2 linked regions of the Homo sapiens genome follow. The protein of the gene in region 2 interacts with the protein of the main gene of each other region in a biochemical or structural test. Each region holds a gene or a part of one and is shown on either strand. Other genes may lie near its edges.

The links.
Region 1: the proteins of SCAMP1 (region 2) and SYNRG form a complex in vitro, tested with the Homo sapiens proteins (one study listed by BioGRID).

What each region holds. Positions count from the first base shown.
Region 1 is NC_000017.11:37,550,144-37,557,437, forward strand, and holds part of SYNRG (synergin gamma), read right to left. Parts: intron 3,917-7,294; coding exon 2,972-3,916; intron 1-2,971. UniProt on the Homo sapiens protein: Plays a role in endocytosis and/or membrane trafficking at the trans-Golgi network (TGN). May act by linking the adapter protein complex AP-1 to other proteins. Component of clathrin-coated vesicles.
Region 2 is NC_000005.10:78,475,479-78,481,395, reverse strand, and holds the end of SCAMP1 (secretory carrier-associated membrane protein 1), read right to left. Parts: intron 5,893-5,917; coding exon 5,728-5,892; 3' UTR 657-5,727; downstream 1-656. UniProt on the Homo sapiens protein: Functions in post-Golgi recycling pathways. Acts as a recycling carrier to the cell surface.

The sequences.
Region 1 (7,294 bases), on a different chromosome or scaffold from region 2:
AATGTAATGCCTAGTAGAGACAGATTCTCTACAATAAAATATGATCAGTTTCTTCAAGAGAAGAAACTGCAATAAATGTTCTTTCTCCCTATCATGTAAAGTAGTGTAAGGTTTATTCTTATTTAAGTTTAATTTTCTATTTCAATCCAATGCCATGTTAAAAACTTACATTAATGGAATTATAAGAAACAAAGGCTAAAATGTACCAATACTTTCTCAGGAGACAAGTGTTTGACGAAACAAAACAAAAGGGGAAAACCCTCTAGTCTTAGGATACTATTGCTTTAAACTTGGTATCAGCCAGGTATTTCTTTGGTCTAACCCTGAAAAAGTACAAATTACACACATCCCCACACTTTCAAAATATGCCAAAGAATTATTTATTAACACAAGACTTACAGATCACAAAAGAGAGTGATACAGAAGAGCTGGAAAAGAAGTCATCAGAATAAGCATGCAGATCAGTATTTGCAGAGGAATATACTAAAGTAAATTTGAAGGCACATTCACACAGAAAATGTCTAAATTGAAAAAAAGACATCAGAAAAGCAGCCAAAAAAAAAAAAAGGTGCTAATTAAAATACAAAGATTTTCAATGTCAAAGAAGAGCTACTTTACAGATAGGTAGGTAGGTAGCTACAGAAGTCTTGCTAACCCTTTGAAAATGTCACAGATGAGGGTCAGCTCTTGCTGCCAATAAAACCATATGATTTTAATGACTGCACGTCAAGATGCTTCAGTGCCGCAGATTAAATTTAGTCAGGGGGAAAAAACAGCCTAGTTGAAATTATATGCAGCAAGGCCTCAAAGGGTTAAATGTAATAATACGCAGAGAAATCAGGCAATGTTATCAGTATTATCTACCTTCCATACAAATGATTATAGCAAGAGTTAAAAGAGACAGTATCCCCTTCAGAGTTAAGTTAGGGCTTCTAAACAGGATTAAGGTCCGCAGATAGCAATCTACCAGGTTTTATTCTCTCTTCATCAGCTCACTTCTTATTTCTCCAACAAGAAGTACCTTTAACCCTCAAACTAAGAGAGCAAGAGATACTGTGGTGAACATGAGGATAAAATAAAACTACATTACTTTGAATAAGTCCTTGCCATTTACCCTCTACAATACATTGATGCAGCAATTTTGCACAACAGCAATATAGCGCATTGGTCAGACATCAACCCCTTTTAACAACCGCTCTAAAGGGATACTGCTCCTTTCTGACAGGAGGTTTACAGATCAATGGGAGGAAACAATCTGCTTTTAAGAATATCCTCCAACTGAAGAGTTAGCTTGAACATTACAGGCTCCAAGCTGAGGATGTTCCAAACATACATAAAAGAACATGAGCACAGAAGATTATTTTAACAGGTCAGTAAGAACAAGCTTGGTCAAAAAAACCAACCTCCAAATAAAATGGGGGAAAAAAAAAGACACCCCAAACCCGGATTAGCCTCATTTCATAAAGACATCTACCTTGGCACTGTGAAAGAATATAGATTCACTTTCAGAAAAATAGTTTCTAATTAATAACTTCAGAGTCCAAAAGGCTAGTATACATGTTATGAGATTTTTAAATAAAAATCCAATATTGTTCAGAAAACAGAGCACTTTGCAACCAACTGCTGTGGTTCAAGCAGCTCATAAAAAAAAAAAACCAACAAAACAAAACCCACAATCACTCTATCAAACAAACAGCAGCAAAAAAATAAGAAAATTTCTGAGGAAAAGTACAAAAAAAAAAAAAAAGACAGAAAGTAGACAGTCAAGGGCACAGGAGCTCTTCAGACCGCCCACTGCATTTGAAAAATACCTTAGCAAGTAGCAACATGAAACATGCAATGTCTCTGCTAACTTGCTCCTGATTCAGCAGCCTGTTTAGCAATACCTACAACATTTCCATAACCAAAGGATGGATGCAATTTTGTTTTCCGACTTGCCAATTTGACATATGCAAAAGCTATAGGACTTTACAATTTCTGCCTGAATCTGTAAACTTGGAAGTGTCTCACGTGTCCCCCCTAGTTAGACAAAACCAAATCCTTCATATGCATAATACATTTTCTAGAATAATACAGTGATACTGAGATATTTCTCATTATTAAAAGGCCACAAAATAGGTTTATCTTTCTATATACATATCAAAAAACAAAACAAAAGAAAAACCAGGACACTTGGGAATCTAGTTTTTATGACAGAAGTTGAACTAGAGAGTAAATTGCTACATGTAAATCTACACAGAATTTAAAGAGGGCTCCCTAATAAGATGTTTTCAAACATTTTATCAGAAAGTTAGCAGTTACCCTATCCTAGCATCTACAGATTTGTTACAACTTAATATTTCCAGTAATAGAGTTAACACTGAAAACAGCTCCTGGATTCCACTGACAACACACACCCTCCTCTTTGCCAGGCCCTGACATACAGAACATTCATATATAAACTCTTTCCCTCTTCTTCTCTTAAAAGGATGTGGCAAACTGCACTACAAGTGGTTAGAAATTTTTACTTTCTTGACCTAACAAGAGTTAATTTCTGTAAATCAAACAGAATACTATACTGGCAGTTGCTGTGTATACCCAAGAGAAGAAAAAAGGAGAGGGAAACACTGATTTTACTCACAGAAATGAAGGAACACTGCCGGCACTGCAAAGGTCTTTATCAAATTTCTGGCAATGTGAGGTTCACTTAGCAGTGACTTTTTATGTGCCTCTAACACCAAGCTGGTGCTAGATTTCAAAAATAAAAATATCTTAGCTACCCAATCTAAGTTCCACAGTAGCCATAGTATCCATATCAAGTATCCATAGAATCAAATTTAACACTGCTTTAAGGAGACTGGCAATAAAGAGGTTGATTATTAGAGATTCATAAAGCTAAAGGGCCAGAGCCTTACTCATGTAAATCAACACCCGCAGAATCATCTTTGAAATCTACAACACCATCACCAGAGCAATCTCACCAATTCCTCACCTGCAGCAGGAGGATGCTGGCCACTAACTGTTGGTAAATCCAAAGAGCTATCAGACATGACATGCTTAAGATCTCCTCCCACATCAGCCAATTTCATGTCAAACTGAACAGAGAGTGCATCTTCAGAGTCCTCCTTGCCAACACTGCTGCCACCAATGGAAGGGAGATCTAAGGACTTCACTGATGCAGAGTCTTCTTTGGTGTGTCTGAAAGCCACTGCTTTCTCTCCCAGGGATTTGTCCGAGTTTATGGAAGAAAATTTACTGGAGTGGAAGTCAGCAAAATCATCATCACTTTTTCCTGAAGGAGTGTTATCTTTCAGGTCTTCAACACCTAGTCCAGACCCTTCCAGAGAAAGTTGTCTGAAGACATCGTACTTGGTAGACGCAGCAGTCGAGTTTTGTCCACCCTTCACTGTGCTGCCCACGTTGCTGGTTAGAGGAACAGGACTGGCTTCCTCTTTAAGGGCATCATATTTGTCATCCGGCTTTTGCTCAGATGAAATAGAGCTATTACTGAAAGCCATAAAATCTGCAAAGTCATCCTGCTCCCCAACAGGTGCTAGACCAGAATATTCCCCAAAAAGGCTGAATTCTCCAAAATCATCAGCCAAACTAGAAGTTTTTGTTGCTGCCAATGCTGTCATAGTAGCAGCAGAACCTGTTGACTGTGGTGTAGAAACTGATTTTGATGTGCTAAACACAGCTGAAAAAGACAATGGTTTCTCGCTGCTGCAATTAACTGAGGAAAACATATCTAGGTCTGCTAAGTTCAGAGGGTTTTTCACTTGTGTTTGTTGTTTCTGTTGTATAGTTCCTGAGGGGAAGGATGGTGGAAAAGTTTTGTCTTTTGTTGGTGGCTCTAGTGGTGATACACTATCGGCTGTTTTAAAATCGGTGAAACCATCATCAGTTCCTGCAGATCTGAATTCTGCAAAGCTTTCTCCTGAAAGAAAAAATACCACCAAACAAATGGGAATGCTGAACTGAAAACCATATAATACACAGTATATTAAACTGCAAGCATAATTTTACTGACTTTTCTCCACTGACTTGACATTACTTAATAATGTTTACATACTTTAAACCCTATCGAACTACACATTTATTTCCACACTGAAGTCTAGTGATACTGAAATAAATAGAAATCGAACTGAAAGTACCTGACGGTACCATTTTCATTTGCTCATGCTTTTAGTGTGGGATCTCTCTTAGCTCTAGATCCTACAACTGGCTAAAAGTACTCCTCTCAAGACTTTTTGTTCCCACAGCTAGCCAGCCAAGCAGACAATACAATAAGAAATAGGGCTAGAGGTTCTTGAAGAGAGGCATATTAAAACAGTGGCCCTTTAAAGATAAACATGTTACCCATTAAAAAAATCAGAGGTACCAATAAAGTATTATGAAAAATCCTACATCTAATATTCAGGATGTACAACACTTGGTTTAGCCAGGCACTTTAAGAATAACATTAGATACTATGTGGTCTTGCTCAAGTAAATGAAGGCATTAATTTGAAGGGAACTTTGATGAAAATTTTTGAAAAGGTATCTATTTATTTGCAAAGCATTCTAGGTGGGGCACATTGTAAAGCAGCTCCTCCCTATAGTCTCTAATAAGCTGAATCTCACAGAAAAAAAGTCCTTGAGCACTTGAGCTTTTCTAGAAATCAGCTGTCTCACTGTATCAATGAGCACTTATTTTTATTTATTAAAATTCAAAAGGATTTGAATAAATACCAACTCTATTATATAAAGTTTTAGAGGGTATGACTTAGACTTTAGTTTACATTATGCTACTCTGAGGATGGGGTAACTGACGGAATTGTTTATTTATTTATTTATTTTTTAAATAAAATTTCTTTTGCCCATGACACAGCTCTCAAGAGATCCTGAGAAACATGTGTCTCAGATTTGTTTATTTTTATATTCTGGTTAAATAGAGTGGGTACTTATGTACTTCTCATAAATAATTAAACAGACTCAGTTAAGACATTGATAAAAATTTAGGCCTATGATTCTTTTTTTTTTGAGACAGAGTTTCATTATTGTCGCCCAGGCTGGAGTACAATGGTGTGATCTCAGTTCACTGCAACCTCCACCTCCCAGGTTCAAGCGATTCTCCTGCCTCAGCCTCCCAAGTAGCTGGGATTACAGGCACCTGCCACCACGCCCGGCTAATTTTTGTATTTTTAGTAGAGACGGGGTTTCACCACGTCACGTAGGCTGGTTTTGAACTCCTGACCTCGGCTGATCCACCTGCCTCGGCCTCCCAAAGTGCTGGGATTACAGGCGTGAGCTACAGCACCCGGCCCAAGGCCTGTGATTCTTAAAAGGTTTCTATATTCTTTATTATCATAGTAATGTTATCATCACTCAGGTACAGCATCAGGATACAGATGATCTCAGTTTTCTAATAGCATCTGAAGGTCTACCATAAAATCCACTAGGCTATACCAGGTAATAAAAACCAGAGATAAACCAAATGTAAATATAGTTATGCCAAGGCCGAACACAGTGGCTCACACCTGTAATCCCAGCACTTTGGAAGACCAAGGAGGGTGTATCACTTGAGGCCAGGAGGAGTTCAAGACAAGCCTGGCCAACATGGAGAAATCCCATCTCTACTTAAAATACAGAAAAATTAGCTGGGCATGGAGGCACATGCCTGTAATCCCAGCTACTCGGGAGGCTGAGGCACAAGAATTGTTTGAACCTGGGAGGCGGAGCTTGCAGTGAGCCAAGATCCCACCGCTGCACTCCAGCCTGGGGGACAGAGAGAGATTCTGTCTCAAAAATAAAAATAAAAAAACAAATAAATATAGCTATACCAACCAACATCATTTATTATTTTAAAAAATGACTGCCATTTCTGGAGATTAAAATTAAGTAAATTAAAATATAAGCTTTAATTTCCTCACCCATTTTTAAAAATTACATTTTCCCCTAAAAATGACATATAAGAGCATATCAATAATAAAAATGTATTGAGAACCAAAATCCAATTCTTAAATTGGCATATAAAATAATGCAGGCTTAAAATATACTGTGCTTGGGCCAGGCACGGTGGCTCACGACTGTAATCCCTGCACTTTGGAAGGCCAAGGCGGGTGGGTCACCTGAGGTCTGGAGTTTGAGACCAGCCTGGCCAACATAGTGAAACCCCATCTCTACTAAAAATACAAAAAATTAGCTGGGTGTGGTGGCAGGTGCCTGTAATCCTAGCTACTTGGGAGGCTGAGGCAGGAGAATCGCTTGAACCCTGGAGACAGAGGTTGCAGTGAGCCGAGATTGTGCCATTGCACTCCAGCCTGGGCAACAAGAGCAAAACTCCGTATCAAAATAAATAAATAAATAAAATAAAAATAAAAATAAATTTAAAAAATAAAATATACTGTGCTTGTAACAAGATATGTACTTGGATATAGCAGATGAAAAAAAAAAAGCACCAAAAACAATACAAGCTAATTTTTCCTCCTAACCTGAGATAGTTAACCAATTCACCAGCATAATTCATCAACACCAAGGAATTCATCTAATAAGAGAGGAACAGCATTCAGATTTCCTGTAATTTATATTTGTAAGACATACCACTAGTAAAACTCAAGTCAATTTCACAAACTGACAGAAGATGTAAAACTTTTAAAAATCACCCTAGAATTTTAGATTAGTAGTATCACTGATTATACTTGTATTATTTCTGAAAATGTAGAGGTGATAAGCGGCCATTTTTATCACAGCCTAAATTTTTAATGTGTTGCTTTGAAATATCTGTGAAATTGACAAGTATTGCTTTGTTTGTTTGTTTGTTTTAATCACCACAGCAAACTACACTTACTGATGAATTGTAAACTTTTCCATTGGAAATGTAAGCTGGGTGAAAGGGCTAAAAGGAAATAAAAGCGGGTGAGTTTACAAAGGGAATTTGTTGGCAAATAAATTAGTCACAGTCAATGGAAGCTTGTCTATCAGAAGGCATATTAAGCATATTATTTCATGGTTAGATTTTTGGTTAATGTCTACATACTTGTAAGTTTCCCTCTCCGTCACTTTTTAGACTCCAAAAAATCTCAAAAGGGACCACTTTTTTGCTAAAATTTCAATAAAAATGTGTCATTTCTTTATACAGAACATTTCCTCATTTACTTTAATTTATGGCTTAAACTCTGGAGATGGAAAAAAGGAAACATTATTAAACTCTGTCATTCAGTAACCTAAGAAACCCACAGCTCTGAACAACACAATACTATAAGATTCTTCATAAATTCTAAGATACTAACGTACTTTGACGAAGTCAAGCCAATGTATTTTTTGAGTATAAAAAA
Region 2 (5,917 bases):
AGGAAAGCCACTAAGATCTTTTCTATGTCATTCATTTTACATCTCCTGTTATGTCTGTTTCATTCTTCATTTTCATTGCAGACCAGCTTTCTTGGTGATTCCTTCCTCATGGCAGAAAATGGCTACCTCTTATGTTCCAATTCTGGAACAGTAGAGTTCTAGACATATCTACATTCAGAATAAAAAACTGATAAGCCAGGAATGAGTCCACTATGGCCAGATGACATCCAGTACCAATGTGGACTTTAAGGACCCAAAGAAGTGGGGCTTTTGAGGAGTAGGTAGACATCCCTAAAGGATGTACAAGGATGTACGGGGTCATCTCATTTTTAATATTAGGAAGTTGTCTTCCTAGAAAAATAGAAAGATATAAACCAGATTTTAATAGAAGTTATTCATGGATGTAAAATTATGAGAATTTTGGTTATTTCTTTTGCTTATATTTTCTATAATTTATACTGAAATATACATTAATTTTATAAATTAAAAAAGTTAATTTAAAAAACTAAACTATTGCGCCATTATGACATAAAGCTAAGTGAGGGGAAAATAAGGTTTTTAAAAATCCATATTGCTTATATCTCTTAACTAAACAAAACACATATGCATAGAAAAAGAATGGAAGACAATAAAATATTAGCAGAGGTACCCCAAGATGACAGAATTAAGGATTTATTTTTATTTTCTCATGTATCACTTTCTGAATTTTTAATTGTTCTACAACACATTATGTATTGCTTTTATACTAGAAAAAAAGTGTGAGGGATGCATAGGCCCAGTGGGTTCAGTTTTTGTGCAGGAGACTAGAATACTGTAGATACCACAGTGATCACCAGATAAAAGACACTGATTTTTGGTGTTTTCCCCCATCCCCAAAATACCTGAATACTACTACAAACTGCCAACAGTAACAACTACTACAATCATGATTTATCTTGAGAATCACTGGCATACAAAATATTAAAAGTTGTGGAGGAATTCTAGAATTACATTTAAGTAAGCACTGAAAATAACTAGAATTTAAAAATAAAACTTGTATGGTATTATTCTACAAACTAGAACTGTTTTAATGTATAGAAGATAATATTCACAGTAATCTTATATTACTAGGTGGATGATTAACTATTTTCTGCTCCTATTACAGAAAAGATTAAATGGCTTTTAGTGTTAGGAGGGTTTCAGCTACACCATCAGCCATGTCAAGCCCAGAAAGATATGAACTGAAAAATAAATCAGGATTTGGACAAACACAAAGTTTAACACTCACTACATTGCCACATGATAGTTCCCATGTTCCCTTGCCATTTGAAACACGGCCAGCACTAATGAAAATTCTTTTTTTTTTTTCTTGAGATGGAGTCTCGCTCTGTCGCCCAGGCTGGAGTGCAGTGGAGAGATCTCGGCTCACTGCAAGCTCCGCCTCCCAGGTTCACGTCATTCTCCTGCCTCAGCCTCCCAAGTAGCTGGGACTACAGGCGCCCGCCACCATGCTCAGCTAATTTTTTTTTTGTATTTTTAGTAGAGATGGGGTTTCACCATGTTAGCCAGGATGGTTTCGATCTCCTGACCTCGTGATCCGCCCACCTTGGCCTCCCAAAGTGCTGGGATTACAGGCGTGAGCCACCACACCTGGCCAAAATCCTATACATTAAATGTTTGTCTTACCCAAACCCCAAAGTTAAATTGTAAATATAAAACCCACAGCGGGGGTGAGAAAACTGGAGAACAGTCTTTCTCTATTTTCCTACAATCTTCAAATAAGAGGTATCTGCTTATATAAGACAGGTTAGTGGCAATACCTGGCTTAGAAAGTTTCTAGATTTATTTCTAGCTCTCTACATACTGTGATAAAGTCCTAAAGTTTAAAAATACCCACCAATATTACAGGCATGCTGCTTTATAAAATATGCCCTAAAATTCTAGCCAAAATACTTCACTTTCTGTAATACTTAATATGTGAGATAAAACTTTTTAGCTCAATAAAAAAGTATTTAAAACAACTCATGTTTTAAACACATTAGTCTACTCTAAATAAATGTATACTATTGTACTTTAAAATGTATCAAAGTAAGGTGTTTTCTATTTTTTAACCATCCTCAATTTTTTTAAAATTAACCAATCTTATTTCATCTCTAAAGGGCTTAATCACATGAAATGAACAAATTCCTCTAAACATTTTCCTTAAGGAAAAACTGAAAGGAGATATAGTGAAATGGTATATGACAGCCATGGTAACTCTAAGGTATACATAAGCAGGGGAAAAAATGCTCAAAATGTAACAAATTCTGTATATAAACAGTCATGCCAAACACAGATTTGTACCAATAAGGATACTGAATTAGATGTTAACAACAGTGTTTTCAGAAAAAGATACAGCAATGAGTAAAAAGCACTATGCTATTACAAATGATTTACAGAAACAACTAATTAACCTAACATAAATCCCCTTAAAATGCAAACCATACATAATCTTAACATGAATTACAGAATAAAATATTTTCCTAGTAAATTAGGTGTAAAAATCCAAACTTGCTTTTTTAAATATAACACCCAGAAAATAAAGAATACTGTTCCTTTTTTAACATGTATTTCTCAAAATAAGATTCACCATGAACATTATTTTAGATATTTTTACATCTTCTTTAGCTAACCAAGTGAAAAATCCAATATACACAAATAGGTACTTTCATCAGTACATAAAACAGCAATAGGTAGCAAGGATAGAAATCAGAATACAAGTTCAATTGAATAAATACAATACTAGTACAGAGACACCCATTTTTAACCCACAATGAAAAATCTGAGCCATGAATAGGTTTTCCATTTTGAATCTAACTTCTAGATGATCTGTATTTTGACCTTAAAGGGGCCAAAATATTTAATATGGGTGAAGCTCATGTTCCATTACCTGTAAAGGTCTAATGCAACAGAAAAATGGTCATTTTACATTGGTTAGAATTTTTAACTAGGTCTTTCATATTATTTTGTTTAGCACATGACAGACTTATACACATATTTTAAAAAATCAAACATGGAATTTCTATATACATCAAACCTTTAACAATGTCTGTCTCTGAATTGCTATTATAGTGTTCAAAATTATACAAACAAACATCCAGTAAACAGCATTTTATTTTATGACACTCTGTGTTAATACAATAAATATACAAAACTTCCAACCCACTGAAACATGCAACATTAGAGGGACACATGGAGGGCATTTCTGTAGAACCATGACAGTCACCATGATGGCAGCGCAGTATTAGTTACTGACAAAATATACAAACATCTCTAGATAAATAATCCAAGTCCCAAATTACAAATCACTGAGTAATGACTTTCCGGTGTTCAAACTTTAGTTTGAAATAAAATTGCCATAATTTAATATTACAAAATGATAAATGACACGGATGACTGCTGTGTGAAGACCATTTTATGACTATGATTTCATGACTGTGATTTTAGTACTAAATATAGAACACTTAACAAATGCCAATCTTTTGCTGAGTGAAAATTTAACAATTTACTGAGAGAAAAGTAAATATAAGAATTTAAAGTTCCTTTCATACTTGATCATACTATAAGCATTGCCATCATTTCAATGCACATATATTTTTAAAAAACAATTTTCTCTCTCAAACTCATATTAAATAACTGGATTTTAAAACATTTTCCCCATCCACACAAAAAAAGATATGTGGGTTCTAATTATTCTTTGCTATTTAATAATGCTACCTTTGAAGATTTCTACATAATATAAACATTCCAATTCTGAAGCAAAGTATTTCAGCATTTTTCAAAAGTCTCTAATATATCTTTTGTTTGTAGTGTACAGGAAAAAATGGACTTGGGATATAAGTTAATGGTGAATATAGGTGCACTTGCTGTATTTTGTGGTTAATGTTTTGAATGTATGCAAAATCCACACTCAATAAAGCACACTGATAAAATAGATTTCCAATAAGACTACAGGCTCTGAAAAACAAACTGGCTAAGTTGGTTGAGAACATAGGTAGAAATTATCGCTGATTAGAAATATTTACAAAAAATAGCTTTAAATTCATACGCTGAAGAATAAAAGAAATGTCTTCCAAGTATACCTGATGTCAATAAGATCCCAAATAAATCAAATGTAAACACCATCTGGATGGATCTGTGTTACCTAGTGACATGCAGCGCTGCTTCATGGATAGTGAAAACTTGGCATCCCACCTCTAGCATAAAACTTTTTCTGTAACTACAGGTTTGGGGAGAATGAAAGTGATTTAACTATTTATGCCTATCTGATTTTTTAAAAAATAAGGATTTCCAGCCTCTAATATCACAATCCTTACTTAAAATCTAATTGAATAATCACTATCATTCTGCAATCTTAATTTAGTTAAAGACTTTCAAAACACAGCAGCATGACTTACAGATGTCTTTGAGTCATTTATTTAATCAGTGGTAAAATTGATTCAAAGGTTGAACCCAAGAATACTATAAGAATGAAGTTCTGTGCTGCATAGTAACAATTTTAACGTGATTATCTTAATGCAGTTAACTGTATTTATATTTTCTTGCTTGGTGCAAGTTAAATGCTTTTTTTTTTATTGCTGGAAATTTTAGATATATTCAGTCTGTCTCAAAAAGTGAAAGACAGGTGCATTTAGGGATTCAAGTATGTGAAAAAATGCCAGGGTCTTTTTATGTTTAATGCCACTGGAGATGAAAAGCTAAAAGGAAAATCCCTTAAATACTGTACAATCTTTTTAGACAACAGTTAGGCTAGCCTTTAATACCTCTGTTAAAAATCACACACACACATCCCCAAAAAAGAGCTGCCAGACACAATCTTAGTTGTAACCACAGAATATACCAAAGTTTTCATATAGCAAAATGTTACTATATGACTACCGAAATTTTTTTAAAAAGGAATTATTACCACTACTTTCTACTGCATTAACTACCTTCTCTTTTGGATAATGTACTGCATATTATATAAACTTCTTATATTGCACCCCCAAACTTTTTATTTAAAAGAAATTCTTGCAGAATATCATTTCTGTGATTCCATTAACCCCTGAATCCTACAACCATAAGCAGTACAGAAGCCAAAACACTAATTCTTTTAATATAAGAAATGTGGTGCCCATGCAAATTAGAGATTGTTATCAAAATATCAGCTATTCTAAAAAAAAGAAAAGAAAAAGATGACAAATTTTACATTATCTACTACAAAATGCACATAGGCTCTTCACTGGTGACTGAAACAGCTAAAAAGCAAGCCAATTTAAAATCCCTAAGTCTCTGCTGGCCTATTTCTTTCAATATAAATAGGGAAAAAGGAATGAAACATGGTTTACTTTTCCAATGTGCAATCCTTATCTCTAAAGATTCTTGAAAGAACTACTGCAGTTAGTATTAAATGCGTTTTTAATCATAAGTACCATTATTAATTTTCAGTGGGTCACCACTGAAATAATTCACTGAATGTCATCCCCCAAAAATATGGAGAATATTTATTTAGCATGTAATATTTTTTCTGCAAGGGGCACTGAAATATTAAGAAACTATTAGGTAAAGTAATAAGACAAGGAAGTTTTCCTGGTTTTAGCCCATGCACAAGTGAACAGGAAATATCCATGCTGTCTGTACTGTGTGTTTTGAACATAAAAATATTTGTAGAATACAGTAACTGGAGAAAAAGGTACAGTCAAAAGGTAACAGTGTATTGTTTGAAGATTCTTAAATCTGGTTACCCTTGAAAGCATTCTGAGCTGCACTAGATGCTGCAGTTGAAGCTGCATTTGCAGCTGCGGTCTGGACAGTTTTGTTGGACATCACACCTGTTGCAAACTCCTGTTGGGCCTTCTCAAAACTAGCACCTGTTGTGCGATATAGTCCATGTACCTACAGAGGCACAAAAAAGTGGGAG